3 linked regions of the Homo sapiens genome follow. The protein of the gene in region 3 interacts with the protein of the main gene of each other region in a pairwise test. Each region holds a gene or a part of one and is shown on either strand. Other genes may lie near its edges.

Evidence for each region.
Region 1: the proteins of RNF32 (region 3) and RAB3D interact in a two-hybrid assay, tested with the Homo sapiens proteins (one study listed by BioGRID).
Region 2: the proteins of RNF32 (region 3) and OGA interact in a two-hybrid assay, tested with the Homo sapiens proteins (one study listed by BioGRID and IntAct).

What each region holds. Positions count from the first base shown.
Region 1 is NC_000019.10:11,329,329-11,337,250, forward strand, and holds part of RAB3D (ras-related protein Rab-3D), read right to left. Parts: coding exon 7,844-7,922; intron 6,456-7,843; coding exon 6,337-6,455; intron 6,244-6,336; coding exon 6,119-6,243; intron 1-6,118. UniProt on the Homo sapiens protein: The small GTPases Rab are key regulators of intracellular membrane trafficking, from the formation of transport vesicles to their fusion with membranes.
Region 2 is NC_000010.11:101,800,794-101,808,715, forward strand, and holds part of OGA (protein O-GlcNAcase), read right to left. Parts: intron 7,109-7,922; coding exon 6,937-7,108; intron 5,351-6,936; coding exon 5,252-5,350; intron 3,227-5,251; coding exon 2,942-3,226; intron 1-2,941.
Region 3 is NC_000007.14:156,657,069-156,664,990, reverse strand, and holds part of RNF32 (RING finger protein 32), read right to left. Parts: intron 7,537-7,922; exon of another isoform or gene 7,451-7,536; coding exon 7,418-7,450; exon of another isoform or gene 7,300-7,417; intron 7,116-7,299; exon of another isoform or gene 6,864-7,115; coding exon 6,739-6,863; exon of another isoform or gene 6,530-6,738; coding exon 6,421-6,529; exon of another isoform or gene 6,129-6,420; coding exon of another isoform or gene 6,105-6,128; exon of another isoform or gene 4,641-6,104; intron 1-4,640. UniProt on the Homo sapiens protein: May play a role in sperm formation.

The sequences.
Region 1 (7,922 bases), on a different chromosome or scaffold from region 3:
CCAGGCGTGGTGGCTCACACCTGTAATCCCAGCAGTTTGGGAGGCCGAGGCAGCGGATCACCTGAGGTCAGGAGTTTGATACCAGCCTGACCAACATGGTGAAACCCCATCTCTACTAAAAATACAAAAGTAGCCAGGCGTGGTGGCACATGCCTGTAATCCCAGCTGTTCGGGAGGCTGAGGCAGGAGAATTGCTTGAACCTGGGAGGCGGAGGTTGCAGCGAGCCAAGATTGTGCCACTGCACTCCAGCCTGGGCAACAAGAGCGAAACTCCATCTCAAAAAAAAAAATAAAACAAAAGAAAAGAAAAAAAAATTGGGATCAAATTCTGTGTCCTGCTTTGTATGCCAATCTTCTTTTTGTGTGTGTGTGAGATACAGGCTCACTCCATCACCCAGGCTGGAACGCAATGGCGCGATCTTGGCTCATTGCAACCTCCGCCTCCCGGGTTCAAATGGTTCTCATACCTCAGCTTTCCAAGTAGCTGGGATTACAGGCACGTGCCACCACACCCAGCTAATTTTTGTATTTTTGGTAGAGACAGGGTTTTACCATGTTGGCCAGGCTGGTCTCGAACTCCTGACATCAAGTGATCTGCCCACTTCAGCCTCCCAAAGTGCTAGGATTACAGGCGTGAGCCACCGAACCTGGCCTGTACTCCAATATTTTAAACATAATAACAGAAAGTGAGAATCCCCCTTTACCCCGAGACCCCAGATATAATCCGCAAGTAGGTGTGGAAAGCACCTCCAAGTATTCCAGCCCATCGCGGGCGTTAACTGATTTCACCACTTCCAGGCTAACTGGGGATCCAGGGCCCTGCCCCACAGAACAGAGATCCAGTTTCTCCAACAAAGCAATGGCAAGAATAAAAGGGGAAAGGGACTGGTTATGGCTTAGAGGTCAGCAAACCTCCTCTGTAAAAGGCCAGATCGTAAATATTTTAGGCTTTCTGGGTCATATGGTCTCTGTCTCAATTACTCAATTTCACGCTTGAAGCACTGTTTATACCCTTTTCTGTATTGAGACAGCCTGTAATCACAGACGTGTGATTACCATAAAAATAGCAACCATAGACAATGCATCAACAAATAGGCATCAACTGAGCACGGGTGTGAGTTCACTCCTGTGATCCCAGCACTTTGGGAGGCCAAGGTGGGAGGACTGCTTAAGCCCAGGAGTTCAAGATCAGCCCAGACAACATGGCAAGACCTATCTCTTAAAATTTTTTTCTTTTTTGAGACGGAGTCTCGCTCTCTTGCCCAGGCTGGAGTGCAGTGGCACGATCTCGGCTCACTGCAACCTCTGCCTCCCAGGTTCAAGCAATTCTCCTGCCTCAGCCTCCTGAGTAGCTGGGATTACAGGTGTGTACCACCACACCCGGCTAATTTTTTTGTATTTTTAGTAGAGACGGGGTTTCACCATGTTGGCCAGGGTGGTCTCAAGCTTCTGACCTTGTGATCCACCCGCCTCGGCCTCCCAAAGTGCTGGGATTACAGGCATGAGCCACTGCGCCCGGCAAAAAAATTTTTTTTTAATTAGGCAGGTGTGGTGGAGTACACCTGGCATCCCAGCTACTTGGGAGGCTGAGGTGGGAGGATCACTTGAGCCCAGGAGTTGGAGGCTGCTTTGAGTTATGATCGTGCCACTGCACTCCAGCCTGAGCACCAGAGAGAGACCTTGCCTCAAAAAAAAAAAAAAAATTTAAAAAATAAATGGTTGGGAGGTTGAGGCGGGTGGATCACCTGAGGTCAGGAATTCCAGACCAGCCTGGCTAACATAGTGAAACCCCATCTCTACTAAAGATACAAAAATTAGCCAGGCCCCGTGGTGGTGGGTGCCTGTAATCCCAGCTACTCAGGAGGCTGAGGCAAGAGAATCACTTGAACTGGGGAGGCGGAGGTGGCAATGAGCCGAAATCACGCCATTGCACTCCAGCCTGGGCGACAAGAGCAAGACTCCGTGTAAAAAAAAAATTCTTTTAAAAGGGTATAGCTGTGTCTCAGAAAAACTTCATTTATAGATACAAATTTGAATTTCATATAAATTTCCCATGTCATATTATTTTTTTTCAACCACTTAAAAATGTAAAAACCAACCAGGTGCCGTGGCTCATGCCTGTAATCCCAGCACTTTGGGAGGCTGAGGCAGGCCGACTGCTTGAGCCCAGGAGTTCAAGACCAGCCTGGGCAATATAGTGAGACCTCATCTCTACAAAAAATAAAAATAAAAAATTAGCCAGTGTGCTGGCTTATACTAGTAGTCCCAGCTACTTGAAAGGCTGAGGCAGCAGAATCACTTGAGCCCAGGTGTCTGAGGCTACAGGGAGCTTTAAACTTATTTTGTAGAGTTGGGGTCTCACTATGTTGCCCAGGCTGGTCTCTAACCCCTGGGCTCAAGCAATCCTCCCTCCTCAGCCTCCTAAAGTGGTGGGATCACACCACTGTACTCCAGCCTGGGTGAAAGAGTGAGGCTCTGTCTCTATTATTTAAAAAACGACGACGACAACAAAACAGCTGGAGTTGCATAGTGAAGTGTTTACAGACAAAAGGTTTCGATGTCAAGGGTTTGCTCTCAATGCTCTAGGAAAAAAAGGAAAAGTATTTTGGGGGAATAGATGATTCAAGATTGAAAAAATGTTGAGACCTAATTAAGCTGAATAATGTTTTATCAAAGTCTATTATACATTCCTTTCTACTTGTGAATGTATTTGAACTTTTCTTAGATGGAGTTTCACTCTTCTTACCCAGGCCGGAGTGCAATGGTGCGATCTCAGCTCACACAACCTCCGCCTCCTGGGTTCAAGTGATTCTCCTCCCTCAGCCTCCTGAGTAGCCGGAATTACAGGCATGCGCCACCACGACCGGCTAATTTTGTATTTTTAGTAGAGATGAGGTTTCACCATGTTGGTCAGGTTGGTCTCAAACTCCTGACCTCAGGTGATCCGCCTGCCTCGGCCTCCCAAAGTGCTGGGATTACAGGCGTGAGCCACCACGCCTGGCCGAACATTTCTCATTTTATTTCATTGTTTTTTGAGACAAGGTCTCACTCTGTCACCCAGGCTGGCATACAGTGGTGCAATCTTGGCTCAATGCAACCTCTGCCTCCCAGGCTCAAGCGATCCTCCCACCTCAGCCTCCTGAGTAGCTGAGACTATAGGTGTGAGCCACCATGCTTAGCTAATTTTTGCATTTTTTTGTAGAGACAGGGTTTACCATGTTGACCAGGCTGGTCTCAAAGTCCTGGGCTTCAGCGATCTACCCACCTTGCCCTCCCAATGTGCTGAGAGTATTTGAACATTTTTATCACAAAAAGTTATTATTTTCTTCCTTTTTTGAGACAGGGTCTCGCTATATTGCCCAAGCTGGTCTCAAATTCTTGGCCTGAAGCAATCCTCCTAATTCAGTCTCCAGAGTAGCTGGGATTACAAGCACATGCCACCATTCCTGGCCAAAGTTATTTTTTTAAAAAAGTGTAGGCCGGGACTATAAAAACCAACCAGGTGCAGTGACTCCATCTCAAAAAAAAAAAGTGTTAAGAACATCTGTGAATCAAGCTGGCAGATTTCTTGCCTCATGTGTCCAAAGAAATATATGTAAAAATGACTGCTGCAGCTGCATTTGTCAGAGGAAAAGGCTAGAAATAATCTCCATGGCTGTCAACAGAGGAAAAGGTTAAGGAAACACGAAATGGAATAGTACACAGCCATGCAAAAGAATGAGCCAGCTCTGGGGCTGATGGAGAAATATTTCTTTTTTTTTTTTTTTTTGAGAAAGAGTCCTGCTCTTCTACCCAGGCTGGAGTGTAGTGGCGTGATCTTGGCTCACTGCAAGTTCCGCCTCCCGGGTTCACACCATTCTCTTGCCTCAGCCTCCCGAGAAGCTGGGACTACCGGCGCCCACCACCACGCCTGGCTAATTTTTTTGTATTTTTAGTAGAGATGGAGTTTCACAGTGTTAGCCAGGATGTTCTTGATCTCCTGACCTCATGATCCGCCCTCTTCGGCCTCCCAAAGTGCTGGGATTACAAGCGTGAGCCACTGCGCCCGGCAGAGAAATATTTCTAGGATATATTATTTAGTAGAAAAGTTCAAAGTGCAGGAAAGGGTATATACAGTAGGGAACATCTGTGTAAAACAAAAAAGTAGCCAATGTGTTGTCAATGCCTGTGGGTGCTCAGCATATTTCTGGAAAGAGATACAAGAATCAGAGAAGCTGGGAGACCAGAACTGCAGGTGGGGAGTGGGTTATTGCCTTAGTCTCTTCCTGTGCCTTCTGAATTTTGCACATAGGGTGCTGGCTTGGATGGGGCTTATGGGAAAGCTGGGGTTAAAAACTGATTGCAAGCATCAGTTTCTTTCTTTCCTTTTTTTTTTTTTCTTTTGAGACAGAGTCTCCCCCCATTGCCCAGGCTGGAGTGCAGTGGCGTGATATCGGCTCACTGCAGCCTCCACCTCTCAGGTTCAAGTGATTCTTCTGCCTCAGCCTCCCAAGTAGCTGGGATTACAGGCGTCTGTCACCATGCCCGGCTAATTTTTGTGCATTTTTAGTAGAGACGGGGTTTTGCCATGTTGGCCAGGCTGGTCTAGAACTCCTGGCCTCAGGTGATCTGCCTGTCTCAGCCTCCCAAAGTGCTGGGATTTCAGGCATGAGCCACCACGCCCGGCCACAAATAAAGTTTTATTGGCAAACAGTCACACCCATTCATTTATGCATTGTCTGTGGCTGCTGTCATGCAGAGTTGGGTAGTTGCCATAGAGACTGTATGGCCAAAAATATTTACTATCTGGCCCTTTAAGAAAAGGTTTGCTGACTCCTGGACTAAAGAAAGCAGTCGTATCCACTATTTTGCTAGAACAAAACAGCCAGGCACGGTGGCTCACGCCTGTAATCCCAACACTTCGGGAGGCTGAGGCAGGTGGATCACCTGTCAGGGGTTCAAGACCAGCCTGGCCAACATGGCAAAACCCCATCTCTACTGAAAATACAAAAATGAGTCAGGCATGCTGCGCACACCTGTAATCCTGGATACTCAGGAGGCTGAGGAAGGAGAATCACTTGAATGCAGGAGGTAGAGGTTGCAGTGAGCCAAGATCGCACCACTGCACTCTAGCCTGGGCAACAGAGGGAGACTCCATCTCAAACAAAAACAAAAACAAACCATAAAGAACATCCCCTTGGGCTGGTGTGGTGGCTCATGCCTGCAATCCTAGCACTTTGGGAGGCTGAGGAGGGAGGATCACTTAAGGTCAGGAGTTCGAGGCCAGCCTGGGAAACATAGCGAGACCCTATCTCCACGCAAAATTAAAAAAAAAGGCCAGGCATGGTGCCTCACGCTTGTAATCCCAGCACTTTGGGAGGCCAAGGCGGGCAGATCACGAGGTCAGGAGATGGAGACCATCCTGGCTAACATGGTGAAACCCCATCTTTACTAAAAATATAAAAAATTAGCTGGGCATGTGGCACGCGCCAGTAGTACCAGCTACTTGGGAGGCTGAAGCAGGAGAATTGCTTGAACCTGGGAGGTGGAGGCTGCAGTGAGCCAATACGGCACCACTGCACTCCAGTCTGGGTGACAGAGTGAGACTCCAACTCAAAAAAATAAAATAAACCTGGGAAGCGGAGCTTGCAGTGAGCCGAGATCGCGCCACTGCACTTCAGCCTGGGCGACAGAGCGAGACTCCGTCTCAAAAAAATAAAAAATAAAAAAATAAAGAACATCCCCATCCTTTTCCATGGCTGCATAGTATTCCACCATGTGAATATACTTTATGTCCACTTGGTTCTCCAACTGTGAGACACCTGGGGGGGATCTGTAGGTTTCACTCCTACTAATACTACTACTACACTCCACACACCATATCCCACATGGGTGAGGATATCTCTAGGATCAATTTCCAGAAATGGTTTTGCTGGGTTCCCAGGGGATAGGCAGTGGGGCAGTGGGAGTTCCTGCGCGTGGATCCCCTGCAATTAGACGGGACATGTGGCATACACATGGGTATCTTCCTGGGCAGATCCTCAAAGGATCAGTGACTGGGTTGGACCCTGAATCAGAGGATGGGGATGAGGGTTTGGTTCTGGGAGACCAGGGCCTGTGGCCCAGGCTGGGCACTAACCAAGGTCGTCGGCGAGCCTCCGGCCATCCTCAGCAGGCACAACACGTTCGTCCTCCAGGTCACACTTGTTCCCCACCAGGATGACCTGGGCGTTGTCCCAGGAGTAGGTCTTGATTTGCGTGGCCCTGCAGAGTTACCAGTGGTGAGCCATGAGCCGGGGGGGTTAGGGGTCAGAGGAGAGGGCAAAGATCAGGGGTCCATGATCAGCAAGCACTCACCAGTCCTGCACAGCGGCAAAGGATTCCTGATTGGCGATGTCATACATGAGCAGGAAGCCCATGGCTCCCCGGTAGTAGGCCGTGGTGATGGTGCGGTAGCGCTCCTGGCCCGCTGTGTCCTGGACAAATGGCAGTGGCAGTTGGCTGGGAACTACCTGTTTCCCAGTCCACCCCTGTCTTAGAGGGGCACTGCCCTGTACTCATAGCCCCAGCCTTACGGGGGAGACACAGACTTGCTTGTACAACCTCTGGTCTGATGGAGAATACACAGATCCTGCCCTCACAACCCCAGTCTGATGGGGGAGGCATGGATTCATTACCAAGGGATCTCCCCAGTCTGATGAGGGAGAGACTTGGGCTTGCCCTTGAGGGGTTCCAAGTCTCAGGGGTCAGTGGCCTCTCACAGACTTATGAGCCCCTTTGACCTTGTCTCTAAGAACCAACTGGGCCAGATGGTACCATCCTGACAGGACACCTTGGTACTCTTGCTACCACGATGATTGTTACCAGCGGCTAAGTTGGGAGAGGGAGCTAGGTGTGACTCTGCAGACCAGGTCGGTCCAATGGGGGTCCCAGGGTCCCCTCTAAGATGGTACCCAAAACTCTTCCCTGTTGGTCACCAGCACCTGGGACCTTTCTTTTTTCTTTCTTTCTTTTTTTAATAGATGGGGTCTTGCCCTGTCACCCATGATGGAATGCAGCGGTGCAATCATAGCTCACTGCAGCCTCGAACTCCTGGGCTCAAGCAATCCTCTTGCCTCAGCCTCCTGAATAGCTGAGACTACAGGCGGGAGCTACCATGCTGGGCTAATGTTTAAAGTTTTTTTTAGAGATGAGATCTCGCTATGTTGTCCAGGCTGGTCTGGAACCGCTGGGCTCAAGTGATGCTCCACCTCAGCCTCCCAAAGTGTTGGGATTACAGGCATAAGCCACCACGCTAGTGTCACAAGTACTTCAAACATGTCTTAGGTTAGTATCATCTCCGCAATCAGACCCCCAGGAATAATACTGTTTCCCGCCAGGCACAGTATTACAGTGGCTCATGCCTGTAATCCCAGCGCTTTGGGAGGCCGAGGTGGGCGGATCACGAGGTCAGGAGTTCGAGACCAGCCTGGCCAACATGGTGAAACCCCATCTCTATTAAAAGTATAAAAAATTAGCCGGGTGTGGTGGCGTGCACCTGTAATCCCAGCTACTCGGGAGACTGAGGCAGAAGAATTGCTTGAACCCAGGAGACGGAGGTTGCAGTGAGCCAACATTGTGCCATTGTGCTCCAGCCTGGGCGACAGAGCAAGACTCTGTCTCGAGAGAAAAAAAAAAAAAAAAGGTCGAGGCAGGAGAATCGCTTGAACCCAGGAGATGGAGGTTGCAGTGAGCCGAGATCCCGCCACTGCCCTCCAGCCTGGGCAACAGAGTGAGACTCCGTCTCAAAAAAAAAAAAAGAACCCTCCAATGAACTTTCCTGGAGGGACCCCACCCCCAACCCACAGCCAGCCTCCCAGCCTACCCAGATCTGCAGCTTGATCCTCTTGTCATGGCGGTAGACGGTCTTGACCTTGAAATCGATGCCCACAGTACTGACGAAG
Region 2 (7,922 bases), on a different chromosome or scaffold from region 3:
AGATGGAGTCTCACCCCATCACCCAGGCTGGAGTGCAGTGGCAGGATCTTGGCTCACTACAACCTCCGCCTCACAGGTTCAAGCAATTCTCCCACCTGAGCCTCCCCAGTAGCTGGGACTACAGGCGCATGCCACCATGCCCAGCTAATTTTTCTATTATTCGTGAAGATGGGGTTTCACCATGTTGGCCAGACTGGTCTCGAACTCGACCTTGTGATCTGCCCACCTGGGCCTCCCAAAGTGCTGAGATTACAAGCGTGAGCCACTACAACCGACTGTAACTTCATTAATAAAGGCGCTGAGGGAAAAAGAAGAGGCCAGGCATGGTGGCTCATGCCTGTAATCTCAGCACTTTGGGAGGCTGAGGCGGGCAAATCACCTGAGGTCTGCAGTTTGAGACTAGCCTGGCCAACATGGTAAAACCCCATCTCTACTAAAAATACAAAAAATTAGCCAGACGTGGTGGCAGGCACCTGTAATCCCAGCTACTCGGGAGGCTGAGGCAGGAGAACTGCTTGAACCCAGGTGTCAAAGGTTGCAGTGAGCTGAGATCGGGCCATTGCACTCCAGCCTGAGCAACAAGAGCAAGACTCCGTCTCAGAAAAAAAAAAAAAAAAGAGATAATCGACAGAGACCCACAAATTAGCACACATAAGGCAACAAAGCTCTGAGCCAGGATAGTGGTAGAGAAAATTAAGTCTGAATTTTTTGATTTTGTACTTAAAAACTCTCTATTCTTAGCTTTCCTTAATATTTCCTACGTATGTCCCAGGTTTGGATAGTGTCTGCCACCCTTAGTATGTTCCTTGCTGTGCCTTAAAAGATGTAGGAGTTAAGTGCCATGTACGCTGACAGCATTTAAATTATATTCCCAATTTGTTTTTTATTGAGGGGAGGAGGATGACAATGACTGAGCCAAACAAAAGGGAGACATTAATTCAATAAACAATTCAAAGCAGAGGTATGGAATTGAGAAACAGATGACAACTATTAATATTACTACATACTATCATGACACTTCAGTAGCCAAAATGGGCCAAAATTCAGGGAACTTCAAAAGTTCAGTGTTCAGGCTGGGCACAGTGGCTCACGCCTGTAATCCCAGAACTCTGGGAGGCAGAGGCAGGCAGATCACCAGGTCAGGAGTTCGAGACCAGCCTGACCAACATGGTGAAACCCTGTCTCTACTAAAACTATAAAAATCAGCCAGATGGGGTGGTGTGCGCCAGTAATCCCAGCTACTCAGGAGGCTGAGGCCAGAGACTCGCTTGAACCAGGGAGGCAGAGGTTGCAATGAGCCAAGATCGCGCCACTGCACTCCAGCCTGGGCAACAGAGCGAGGCTCTGTCTCAAAGAAAAAAAAAAATTTTCAGTGTTCAGTGTTTTTAACCTCCAGCCCACAAACCTTTAACGCCCAGCAAACTCTCCTCATACTTTGATCCAGCTTAAAAGTCTGTGAAATCTCTTAGCAAAAATAATCACTCTCTCCCGTGTTCACACAGCACTTTATAAATTAAACTATTACAACACTTATCACACTATAGTACAATTGCCTATAAGCCTTACCCAACACTAGACTGTTTCTCAAAAGTAGGAATGGCTGGGCGCGATGGCTCACGCCTGTAATCCCAGCACTTTGGGAAGCCCAGGAGGGCGGATCACCTGAGGTCAGGAGTTCAAGACCAGCCTGACATGGAGAAACCCCGTCTCTACTAAAAATACAAAATTAGCCAGGCATGGTGGCGCATGCCTGTAATCCCAGCTACTCGGGAGGCTGAGACAGGAGAATCACTTGAACCTGGGAGGCGGAGGTTGCAGGGAGCTGAGATTGCGCCACTGCACTCCAGCCTGGGCAACAAGAGCAAGACTCCATCTCAAAAAGAAAAAAAAAAAACTACTTTATTCTTTGCCCCCTCAGTGCCCATGAACATGCATCTGCCCCATGACAGATTATTTAAATGTAAATAATTATCAAGCACCTTACTTAGAACTCTATTAATTAGAGATTTTTCATAAATTAAAAATTAGTAAGCCAATGTCTAAAATAAGACTGTATTCCATTCGGCCAGGCAGGGTGGCTCATGCCTGTAATCCCAGCACTCTGGGAGGCCGAGGCAGGTGGATCACCTAAGGTCAGGAGTTCGAGACCAGTCTGGCCAAGATGGTGAAACCCTGTCTCTACTTTAAAAAAAAAAAAAAAAAAAAAAAAAAGCCGGGTGTGCCTGCAATCCCAGCTACTCGGGAGGCTGAGGCTGGAGAATCGCTTGAACCTGGGAAGCAGAGGTTGCAGCGAGCTGAGATTGCGCCACTGCACTCCAGCCTGGGCGATGGAGCAAAACTCCATCTCAAAAAAAAAAAAAAAGAGTATGTTCCATAAAAGATAAATGTAAGCTGAATCTAAATGATCTAAGTGACTCAAGAGTATCTAGTTATCTAAAATATCCTTTTCAATAAAATTGCCTGAAAATACATTTTATCCGAATGATTCTAGAGATAATGGAAACACTTAAAAGACTGTCTCCTCTAGTACTCAGACTTCAAAGACTGAACCATATTTTATTTTTATTTATTTCATAGGATTTTCATCTGTTGTCCAGGCTGGAGTGCATTTCCTGGGATTATAAGCGAGCCACCACGCTGCTTCTGAATCATACTAAAAAAAAAAAAAACAAAAAAAAAAAAACTAAGGCAAAGAGGTTAAGTGACTTGTCCAAAGACACTCAACCTTTCTTCTATCATATACATCTTCATCAACAGAATGAAACAACATACCATAATAAAACCACTTGGTTTTGTTTCCTCCTTAGTAAAACAAAATACGTTTTTAAAAAAATAAATAAAACTGTTTAAGTTGTGATGACAAAGGAATGCATACTTTCCACTGGCTCTAGTTAACCCCAGCTCTCCTCCCAAGGTGAAAGATCAAGTACAGGCTACTTACTCATCACTACATCTTTTCTCACTCCATTCATGTTTGATTTGTACCAGGTGGCAAGGGTGTGGATAGCAACGTAGTTGGCTTCAAATTCACAATTTGGATTAGTGAGGACTCCTTTTAACCGTGGGATGAGTTCTGTGGATCTTCCTTTGTACGGGCCCAGAAACAGTCTCTTCTGATCATAATCATTAGCATGAATGTTATCCCAGATTACTGGAGCTCTCTTAATAATCTTAGAAACCTCTTCGATGGACTCTACTGGAATTTCTTTAGAAACAACTTTGGGACCTAGAAATAACGACAACCGTTCGTTAAAAGAATCATGGTTCTTGGCTAGACGCATTGGCTCATAACTGTAATCCCAGCACTCTGGGAGGCAGAGGTGGGCAGATCATTTGAGCCCAGGAGTTCGGACCAGCCTGGGCAACACAGCGAGACCCTATCTTTTTATTTTAAATTAAAAAATATATTTAAAAAAAAGAATCATGGTTCTTTAAAATATACTGCATATATAACTTTTTATTGTTTTCCTTACGTGTACTTTTTTTTTTTTTTTTTTGAGACAGAGTCTCGCTGTGTCGCCCAGGCTGGAGTACAGTGGTGTGATCTCGGCTCACTGTAAGCTCCGCCTCCTGGATTCACACCATTCTCCTGCTTCAGCCTCCTGAGTAGCTGGGACTACAGGCGCCCTCCACCACGCCTGGCTAATTTTTTGTATTTTTTAGTAGAGATGGGGTTTCACTGTGTTAGCCAGGATGGTCTCGATCTCCTCACCCTGTGATCCGCCTGCCTCGGCCTCCCAAAGTGCTGGGATTACAGGCGTGAGCCACTGCGCCTGGCCCCTTACATGTACATTTTATAACAACGTTTCTTTTTCTGAGACAGGGTCTCCTCTGTTACCCAGGCTGAAGTGCAATGGAGTAATCATGGCTCACTGCAGCCTTGAGCTCCTGAGCTCAAGCAATCCTCTCACCTCAGCCTCCCAAGTAGCTGGGACTACAGGTGTGCCCCACCATGTCACAGTAATTTAAAATTTTTTTGTACAGATAAGGGCTTGCTATGTTGCCCAGGCTAATCTTAAACTCCTGGCCTCAAGCGATCCTCCTACCTCAACTCAAGCCTCCCACAGCACTGGGATTACAGGCACGAACCAATGCACCCAGCCACAATTTTTCTTTTGAAAACACAACATGTCTTTTACTGAGCTTTATTTTTTTCGTTTTATAAAATAGAAGAGTTTCCTAACGCTGCTTAAGGATGGGATCAATACCTTTTAGCCCAATTCCCTATAAATCTTTATTATTTATTAACTGAATTTTTTTTGAGACAGGGTCTCATTCTGTTGCTCAGGCTGGAGTGCAGTGGCATGATCACAGCTCACTGCAGCCTCTACCTCCCGGGCTCAAGTGATCCTTCCACCTCAGCCCCCTAAGTAGCTGGGACTACAGGTGTGCACCAGCCCACCTGGCTAAGTTTTTTATTTTTTCTACAGTCTCTCTATGTTGTCTAAGCTGGTCTTGAACTCCTGGGGGCTTCCACCTCAGGCTCCCCACTCAGGCTCCCCAACCATGATAGATGTTTTTTCATATTAAGAGAATATGTAAACTTTGTAAAAGAAAGCGTATTTTAACAAGTTCTCTGGGCCAGGTGCAGTGGGTCACATGTGTAATCCCAGCACTTTGGGAGGCCGAAGTGGGCAGATCACCTGAGGTCGGGAGTTTGAGACCAGCCTGGCTAACATGGAGAAACCCCGTCTCTACTAGAAATACAAAAATTAGCTGGGTGTGGTGGCGTGTGCCTGTAATCCCAGCTACTTGGGAGGCTGAGTCAGGAGAATTGCTTGAACCCGGGAGGCAGAGTTTGCAGGGAGCTGAGATTGTGCCACTGCACTCCAGCCTGGGCAACAAGAGCAATGCTCTGTCTCAAAAAAAAAAAAAAAAAAGGCCAGGCGTGGTGGCTCACGCCTGTAATCCCAGCACTTTGGGAGGCCAAGGCGGGTGGATCACGAGGTCAGGAGATCGAGACCATCCTGGCTAACATGGTGAAACCCTGTCTCTACTAAAAATACAAAAAATTAGCCAGGCGTGGTGGCGGGTGCCTGTAGTCCCAGCTACTCGGGAGGCTGAGGCAGGAGAATGGTGTGAACCTGGGAGGCGGAGCGTGCAGTGAGCCGAGATCATGCCACTGGACTCCATCCTGGGCGACAGAGTGAGACTCCGTCTCAAAAAAAAAAGTATTCAATTAACAAGAACAAGCAATTTCTGCAAGTCCTACTTAATTCAACTTTGACTGTATAAATCTTAAAAGACTTACCTGTCCAAAGCACTTCAATTCCAGGTAGAAGCTTTTCACCCACAGTCCTTAAATATGGAGACTGAGACACATTTGGATAACAGAAAGTGCCACAGTATTCTAAATGTAGGGAGAAAAGTAAAAAAGTCAGAATTAAAATGCTCATGGGTTTTCTCTTTGTTTGTTTGTTTTCTTTGAGACGGAGTCTCACTCTTGATGCCCAGGCTAGAGTGCAGTGGCACGATCTCGGCTCACTGCAACCTCTGCCTCCTGGGCTCAAGCAATTCTCCTGCCTCAGCCTCCCAAGCAGCTGGGACTACAGGCGCACGCCGCCACGCCCGGCTAATTTTTTTTTGTATTTTAGTAGAGATGGGGTTTCACCATGCTGCCCAGGTTGGTCGCAAACTCCTGAGCTCAGGCAATCCGCCCGCCTTGGCCTCCCAAAAGGCCCATGGGTTTTTGAATGTGGAAAAAATGTCTGCCAATTCTAAATTATTTTCATCTAAATGATAAAAGGCCTCCTACAAGGAACTAAAGTGGGCAGTTCATTTAAGAAATTCATAAAATCTGGTATTTTTCCTCCAACAGTAGTACAGATCAATTCTTACGATACTACAGTTACTAGAAATACAAGTTTACTAAAAAAACAAGAACTGCAGCATTTTCTACAGAATTCTGAATTGCCTACTTTTCTCAGTTACAATTAAACGCCAAACAGAATGAATTGATAATATCATAATAGAACTAATACAAGAATATGCCAATGGCAGCTGGGCACAGTGGCTCACACCTGCAATCCCAGCATTTTGGGAGGCTGAAGCGGGTGGATCACTTGAGCCCAAGAGTTCGACACTAGCCTGGGCAATATGGCGAAACCCCGTCTCTACCAAAAATATAAAAATTAGCCAGTTTTATAGCCCGGTCTCTAAATAAATAATACAAACTTAAAAGTAAAATTTAAAAAAAATTTTTTTAAAGGCATATACCAATGGCTATTAGTACTCAACTGCAACTTAAACTGTAACTTGCAGCTAATTAATTCCCAGTATAATCTTAAAACTTCTGGGTACTAATGTAGTACTCAACTAAAATAAGGTTCTCGGCTCACAATACACACAAAGAAAGTTAAATAATTTAATCTAAAATTCTTCCTGAACAAGGAAGTGTGGGGAAAACTTCCTGTAAGTTGAATTTTGAGAAGCAACTAAGAGACTAAAATATTTTCAATGAAAGAAACCAGAGGGGCAAAAAGAAAGGAAAACGGGAAAAACTGTTAAGCTTTCTATGCTGACTACTTGAAATAAGAGCCCAGATGGGAGTGGGAGGAGTGCAAAAAGGGACAGATATGCATGGGCAGAAAAAGGGGACAAGTAGGAGGAAATGAGAAGTGACTAAGGTAAAAGCAATGTAATTTGGTTTTTCTCCAGTTTTCATTTCAATACTATCCCTCTTTTAATATTGACAATGTAATGTTCATATACTTCCAGTACTTAAAAATACATAAAAATCTTTTGCCTAGTCAGTTGTCATTTATTAGTTCCTAAAATTTCTCCAATTTAGGATCTTGAAAAATGTCTTCTAAAAAAAGATTCCTACTTTTACACACCAAAGGAGGAGGGAAGTGGAGAGAGAATGGGGCCCATGGTCCTTTATAAGTTATATATTCCAAGAAGACTAGTTAAATGTAAAGCCATTATATACAATACCTGTGGGACAGAAGAGGAAAGTTTCTGGCTCTCCTAGGTACTGATAGATTTCATTTGTGATGGAGACTTGGGCATGAGCAAAAGAACTGAATACCTCTTTGTCTGCTGCACACATATTATGGTCTATATCATCAAAAAGCAAAGCAAATGATCTGCACCCAAACTGAGAAACCTAGGAGAAAAAAAAAAAAAAGAATCAAGAGTAAAAAAATTAAGAATTCCAAACATTACAGCGTTAACAGTTATACTTAAAATCCAGTATTTTCCTTACTAGAATGTTCAAAGACAGATTTATTGTTTTTACATTTTCAATTAAAAAATCGTAAGTTAAACAGTTTTGGGACCCATTTCTCATTTGGGTTTGAATGCACTACAGGCTGAGTATTCCTTATCTGAAATGCTTGGGACCAAAAATGTTTTGGATTTTCATTTTTGTTTTTTCCTGGATTTTGGAATATCTGTATTATATTCAGCATCCCTAACCTGAAAATCCAAAATCTGAAATGCTCCAATGAGCATTTCCTTTGAATTTTATGGAGCTCAAAGAGTTTCATATTTTGGAACATTTCAGATTTCTGAATTAGGGATACTCAACTTATATGACAATATGATCCAACAAAGTGGCCTAGCCTCCTAGTCCTCATGGGCTGCTGCTGATTGTAGAAGACCCAACAAAGTCAGAAAAATACAGAAACATGAGTAAGTAACCTTAAGACATGAAAAAGCCAGGCTGTGTCCTAGTCCCAAAAGGCACACTGATCCCTTTGCAGATAAACCTAACCAGGTATGAATCAGAAAGAATAGAATTTTATCAAATAGTAAAATAACTTCATTCATGAAAATTTCAACTGCCTTAAATTTTTTACCAGACATTTTAATGCCACCCATATAAATCTTTGCCTAAAGAAATAAGACATGTATATAGAAAAACCAGCAAACTAAAATAACAGAAAAATGGGGCCGGGCGCAGTGGCTCACACTTGTAA
Region 3 (7,922 bases):
AACAAGCCTCATTTTACTTATAATCTTACGTTAAAATTTTTATAGGTACTTAAAGGAAAGCAGTTCAATTTTCTCTTTTTTACTGAAACATATGTTTGTTTCTTGGTGAAAACAATACAATTCTGTTTCTATCATTGGAAAAATGACATTTTCACATGTTATGCCCAGATTAAACTAGATAAACTTGTTAATAGTATACTATTATGCTAGATGAAAAGAGTCTTTTCTAAAGGCATCTGAGGATGATGATGACTTTCTTTACTAAGATAGGGTCCGTGTATTATTTGTCTCACATTTATTATTAAGCTCTTCCAGTTTTGAGCTGTAAAATATTCTACTCATTGATTACATCTTTAAAAAAGAACAATAAAATAGATGCAACCCCTAAACATTAATATATAATATATACAAGGAAATTCTCCACTTGTACCAAACATGTAAATCAAGATGATCATTTTGCCTTGTCAACCAGGACAAATTACCACCTAGTGTGCTCTTGCAGTGTTTTTCTTTTTCTTTCTTTTTTTTTTGGATGGAGTTTGACTCTTGTCGCCCAGGCTGGAGTGCAATGGCACGATCTTGGCTCACTGCAACCTCTGCCTCCCGGGTGCAAGCTATTCTCCTGCCTCAGCCTCCTGAGTAGCTGGGATTACAGGCGTGCGCCACCACGCCCGGCTAATATTGTATTTTTAGTAGAGAAGGGGTTTCTCCATGTTGGTCAGGCTGGTCTCGAACTCCCGACCTCACGTGATGCCCCCGCCTCAGCCTCCCAAAGTGCTGGGATTACAGGCGTGAGCCACCGCGCCCGGCCCTTGCAATGTTTTTCTATAGCCTTCAGAACGTTGTAAAAGCCACGGTGGCAATCACGCAATGTGCCGTGTGCACTGGAGCAGAATCTGAGATCCAGGCTCTCTCCCCGCTCTGAGCTGCACACGTTCTGCTAGGATTGTGGTGTTTTGTCTGTTCCCTCGTTATCTCCCCTGACTAACAAAGCACAGGCAGAGAGCAGGCACCCAGGAAGCTATTTGACTCCATTAATTTCATGTATCCATTAAAATGTATTTGAGAGTGTAATCCGTGTGGAATGTTCTTGGCAGTAACGCATAAAGCAGTGTTCTTTAACCCCCTTCAGATGAATGAACTCAATTTCCCAATTGATTTTTCTCAAATAATTTTTTTCTCCACTGGTCTGAAATACCTTCTTTAGTACACTAAAATTTCCTGTATGCTGAGATGTGTGACTTTCTACTGTTTCATTGTTTGTCTATTATTCCCCAAGAATCTTAGTTGCCAAATTTATATATTTTGATATCTAACAAGGCTGTTCTATCTCATCAATCTGTCTTTTAAAAAAATTATTAGCTCTTCATACCTCTTTAGATAAACTTTAGAGTTAACCTGTAAAGTCCTAAATGCACAGCCAATCCTACTCCTTTGGGAGTTAGAAACTACATTAAATTTATATAAAGTAAGTGGACATTTTTACTCATTCCAGTGTAAAATGTCTGTCATTTTATTCAAGCCTTTTATTCCATCAGAAAAAATTTTTTCTTATCAGTGTGGTACATTCCTTGTTTGGCTTATTTTAATATAAATATAATGTAAAATTGTAATATACATGTGTGGATTTATATAATATGCATAACATATACACATATGTGCACACACATATATTTTGTTTTCATGTGTTATTGGCAAGGATTGGCTCAAGTGTGATGACAGTAAGTAACCTAGTTTTCTTTATGGTTTTTTACTCTCTAAAACAATGTGTTTTTAGTATTTGACACATAGTTTTTAATGTGACAAGGAAATTTCATTCTAGTTCTAGTGTCTTTCATTATTAAGAATGGCTGTTAAGGCCGGGTGCAGTGGCTCACGCCTGTAATCCCAGCACTTTGGGAGGCCGAGGCTGGTGGATCACGAGATCAGGAGATCGAGACCATCCTGGCTAACATGGTGAAACCTCATCTCTACAATTAGCCGGGCATGGTGGTGGGCGCCTGTAGTCCCAGCTACTTGGGAGGCTGAGGCAGGAGAATGGCCTGAACCTGGGAGGCGGAGGTTGCAGTGTGCCGAGATCGCGCCACTGCACTCCAGCCTGGGTGACAGAGCGAGACTGTGCCTCAAAAAAAAAAAAAAAAAAGAATGGCTGTTAAATTTTATTTAATATCTTTTCAGTAAAAACGGAGATGCTCATATAATTTTTTTCAGTCATTTCATACTTTAAATTTCTTTCCACGTTTGCTATTTTTACAGGAAGTAATTTCAATTATATTTTCACTTCTATTGCATAAAGTTGTATACAACAATTTTGTAATTTTAAAATGATTTCTATTTATATGGGTACACCTCCCTTTCTGTGTATCTACAGAAAACCAACGTCCCAGGTCAAGCAGTCAGGCAGAGACAGAGAGAAAGCACACGCAAGAGAGTGAGACTGTGCCTGTGTACACACGCAATTCACTTTACTGAGTCCACTGATTCAAATGCTCAGCTCATCTGGAAATACCCACAGGCACACCCAGCAATAATGTTTAACCAGATAACCTGAGCATCCCTTAGCCCAGTCAAGTTGACACATAAATTAACCATCACACCTGGGTAATGTGAAATTCAATAACCTAGTTCAGTAACCTTTTGGATTCCATTAAATATGCAGGGCATTCTAAAATTGTAGATTAACATTTCTCAGAGGATTCCCATCGCTCACAGAATGAGTTTATTAAGTTGGAAAGGTAGAAAAAAAGCATCAAATGGTGAGGTCATTTGGTAAATGATTAAGAAGTGGTCTTTATTATAAAGGACAGCTGTTGAGTTCTACCCATACAGGCATACAAGCACATAGGGCATGGACCCATATAGGCACCTACTACCTACTGCTAATACACTATTTTACAGTAAGTTCAATCTTCATTTATTTAACATGAGATCTGAGTTTACAGATTTCAAGTGTTTATGGCCAAATGAGTTAAGTGAGCAAGAGTTACATGATAGGATCCCTATTCATGTAACAAATTATGAGTATAACCTCACTATGATCTGAGTGTGTGTGCGTATATGTATACATCTGTTCCTCCCCACCCCCACACTTGAAACTTGAATGAGGTAAGATTACAGTTCAGCAGATAACACGGTCACTTGTATTATGTTTAAGGTGGCAGTTATTGATAATGCAGACTGCTGATATCTACAACCCATCAGTGACCCATAACATTAATGTAGTAGGCCCAGCACTTTGGAAACGAAGTGGAATAAAAATGAACACAGTGTGGTGCCTGCAGTGAAAGCAGATTTTGCTTTGCGAAAGTTACGTTTCTGTTAACTGTATACATGTGGTGGGTCATTGCTGTAAGCTAAAAATAAAATCCTGGCCAGGCCATGGTGGCTCTCACCTGTAATCCCAGCACTTTGGGAGGCCAAGGCAGGCAGATCACCTGAAGCTGGGAGTTCAGGACCTGCCTGGCCAACATGGGGAATCCCTGTGTCTACTAAAAAATACAAAAATTAGCTGGGCATGATGGCGGGTGCCTGTAATCCCAGCTACTCAAGAGGTTGAGATAGGAGAATTGCTTGAACTCGGGAAACGATGGTTGCAGTGAGCCAAGATCGTGCCACTGCACTCCAGCCTGGGCAGCTGAGCGAGACTCCGTCTCAAAAAAAAAAAAAAATCCTAAGGCCCCCAGCAACAGAACGAACCCCCTCTTGGCCAAGGGGGCCCTAGGAAAACCTTAACAATGGAATTTCTGGCCACGATGGGAAGAAAGGTGAGATGCCCCTTATGCCCACTCCTTGCTGGAGTTTAAGCTGAAGTGACCAGTATTCCTTTAAAAGTGATAAGGCTGACGGCAGTCTGAGGCAGTAAGAAACCAAAGTACAAACAAGACCTAAGGCCATGCCCGGCAAGGGACAGTCATGCCGCAGGCCATCAGTCTTGCTGCGCAGCATCCTCAACTTAGAGATTCCCTTCTGCTGACTCCAGTATTTAGATAGAGCCCTACTCCTTTAACCAACTGCAAATAAAGAATCTCTGAATCCACCTACAATCTGTAAACCCCCACTTCAAGATATCACGCCTTTCTGGCCAAACCAATGTATAACTTCCATGTACTGACTGATGTCTTTGCCTGTAACTCCTGCCTCCCTAAAATGTATGAAACCAAACCGTAATCCAACCGCCCGGGGTGCACTTTCTCAGGACTCCTTGAGAGTGGGTTTCCTGGCCTGCAGTCACTCGTATCAGTCAGAGTCAACTTCTTTAAAATACTTTACAGAGTTTGGTTTTTCTGTCAACATTGCTTAGAAGATATTTCTTATTGTGGTTGAGGAAAAGTCTGAAAGCCACTGCCCTAGCCTATGGCTCTTGCCTATAATCCCAGCTAACTGGGAGGCTGAGGTGGGAGGTTCGCTTCAGCCCAGGAATTTGAGGCCAGCCTGGGCAATATAACGAAACCCTGTCTCTAAATAAAAATAAAAAACAACTTATACAGTTTGTTCTCAACTACCACCCCTGCAAAAAATAAAAAATCAGTTTTACTTATCAGTTTCTTCACAGATATTCAGCTTAAGTGAATTTGCTATTGAAATCATCTGAGATCATCTTAAAAGCCCCAAAGGAAAAACCACATTTGTAATATACAAGCTAGAATAGCATTCATACTTCTGTTCTTCTTGATCTCTTAGATGGTGTTGTTTAAACATACAATAGAGGTTTAGAGAAGACCAAAGAAATTGGAAGAAAGCTTCAGCTAGGCTTTGAAAAACTGGCACATTTTAAGCAAGGCAGAGGGAACCAGTAGGAACGGGCAGGACATGCGGGGGCGGGCAAGAGTGTGCTCAGAAAAGCAGACACGGGGATCAGAGCGGGGCGTTCCGAGCGATGAGGGCTCAGGACGAGGAGGCAGCAGTTGGGATGAACCAAGGATAAAACAAAAAACAGTATTTGTGGGGAGGTGGGATGGCCACAGGGCAGCGGACCCAACGTCCAGTGGGACAGAGCTATGAATCTGCCTTGTAAAGTTCCATCTCTCTGTGGGAGACACTGAATTAGAAACTGAGGAACTTGTTTGATCAGGTCTCCCTGCCCCGACTGCTCTTGGTCACTTGCTTTTTGTTATTTTTCGTTTCCTTTTTCCATGAAGCTGAAGGCTGCAGCATTTGAACACCTGAGCACTGAACGCTGAAACTTAACCTTCACTGGCTACTTTACAAGATAACACAAGGCACATTGTAATGGTTGCTTCACTTGTTTCCAGCAACCTGGGCCAGTTCTCGTCCAGTTCAATGGGCTGAGACCACCAACACTTTCAGTGGGCCTTTATCTTCAAGAGTTCTTATAAAATGATGTGTGCACATGAAAAATATTTATATATATAAGGTAAAATGACTATCAAATCTGTAATTAAAATTGTATAAGAGGTGACAAAAAATCACTTCTGATTTAAGAGACAACCTACTATGACATATTAGAAATTACTAAGAGTAGCCCAGAGAACACAACTGACTGTCAACGACTGAAGATAAAAAACTGGAAAGAATGTAAAGGAAGGATGACGCAATCGTGCATGGCGGTCCTTTACCAAATTGAGAATGAACACCCGAGACGAATGATCTCTGAAGATCAGAGACACTGCTCTCAGGAACAGAACACACAGTAACTCATCTCCATATTCTAGGAAAGGAGTTAATAGTGATAATAAATACAGAATTTCCAGCACCTACTGTGTGCTGGGCCATTATAAATGCTACAGCTCTTCTCAGGCCAACACTGCCAGGAAGAAGTGATGGCTTTCATATGACAGCCTCGGAGCTGCTGCTGTTTGCCTGAAGCCACAGGCTGATGGGGTAGGACTGTCCTTTTCATATGGGGACAAGGAATGGGAAATTGTTAAATAAGTCCCCCAAAAGTAAAACTAAAGCATAAATAGTGGTTAAGAGGAAGGGTAGACATGGAAGTTAGCTCTAAAGCTCATTGTGATGACCCCACGAGGTACTCAATACAATGGTAGCATGTGGGGGCTTTATTTTTATAGGCAGCTTCTATTTTCATTACTATGAGATGTGCAGCAGATGTCTTCATTTACATATAGCCCAGGAGATGGGAAAAATTAAGCTGGTTTCCAGTCTTGTGTCTGAAGAGATAAGTTTATTTAAACAATTAGCACAAAATGGCCAAACAGAAGTTGCTTTGATTTAACCTAATTTTATGATTTAACTAGAAAAGAAAGTCTAGAAGTATTTGAACATCTAGGTTGGAAAGCCAACTAAAGTTAAACAGGATTTTTAGCAGCATCTCACCCATTTTTAAAAAGCCCTCAAAGTGAAGTAAGTCTCAAAGTTTTACCACCTCTGTTAGCCTTCCTGACCCCAAGTGAACCACCCGCACGGAGACCATATCTGGAGAACATAATGATCTTTACCTACCTTTTTTTCAAAGAATTTTTTTCTTAACTTGGCATCTGTGGGAGGTACTGTTTTCCTCAGGTTTCTGTACCACTTTCTAACAACACATCCTCTCCAGTAGGCTTGGATTCTAAAACACAGATATTTGAAAATGACTAATTTATGATGACTCTATGTCAACCAATACTTCAGTAGTTGTTATAAGCCCTGTGCTGTACAAGGCCCTGGGGAAATTATGGTGGCCAAGAAGAGAGATAAAATCCCACTATTCAAAAAACAAGTTAGTTGTCATAGCCTGATCTGTGTCTGCTTAGCGCCAAACGGGCCTGGCGTCCTCACCTGGTCACACACTTGATTCTGAACAGGCGGGCCCCATCGTGTATCACTCGGGTTTGATACTGGTTCTTTCTACAGAGAGGACAGGTTTTCTTATTTGTGAACTTTTCAAAAGCCTGAAGACATGCCTGAAGAAAAACATTTCACTTAAAATTTTACAAGTAATTACTTATAAACAACGTTTTTACTTCCAATGTTAGTGTTCTAATTATAGTGTTCTTTTCTCCCATAACTATGAGACTTAGCCCAATTTAGGTTATAAAGTGAGGAGGCTTCATCAGGTGCTACCACCTTCCTCACAAAACCTGTTCCAAAAATGATTTCTTACAAGAATATACATGCAGAGACATCAAAAACTTCTGAAATCCACTAGCACAAAGGTGAGTCACGCGTGTGTATGGGGCCACATGCAGATCGATCATGTGAATTTAGCTGTCACTTTGACATGCATTACTGACAACAATCTGTTACATAAACATTTGTGGTTCTTTTGTCACAAAACTCATGATTTTCAAAATAGGATGAATTGTACTGCAGCCTACAGTCATGTTTCTTTAACTATAGATGGTGGTGATGAATAAAATAAATGGCTCTCCTTAGGAGCCTTGAAAATGACTATGGTTTCTCTGCACTGTGAGAGCGACATGTGCAGCACCTGGGCAGGCGTGAGGGGTGGACTTACTTTGTGGAACACATGGGAGCATGAAAGCAGCACCTGTTCATGAGGAAACAGAACGACGTTGAAGTTTACAAAAGAGAAGCAGCATGTATCCAACAGTTAAAATCCTGAATGCTTAGAAGGTAAGCTGTATTATTTCTTTAAAAAAGCAAATTAATAACTTTGATATTTATACTATTTATTGTTTGTTTAGCACAGCACAAGTATATACTCTAAATAACAAAAATTCATGATCTGAAATATCAAATAAACACATGAAGTTTGATATTTAACTATTAAAATGAGTGTATACTTAAGAGCGAAACAATGACAAAATGAAAGTTTCCCTTAGATGCGGGCAGTGACTGCAAACTGGAGGGGTGAGGAGGGGGGCCTGTCCAGTGGGGCCAGGGAAACGCTAAGTAAATACCATTTAGGTCTTTGTTCAGCTCAGTTATGCCCCCCAATTTTTGTGAAATCATAGCTCTACTGAGATATAATTCTGACAGTCTTAAATTTAAATAGCAAC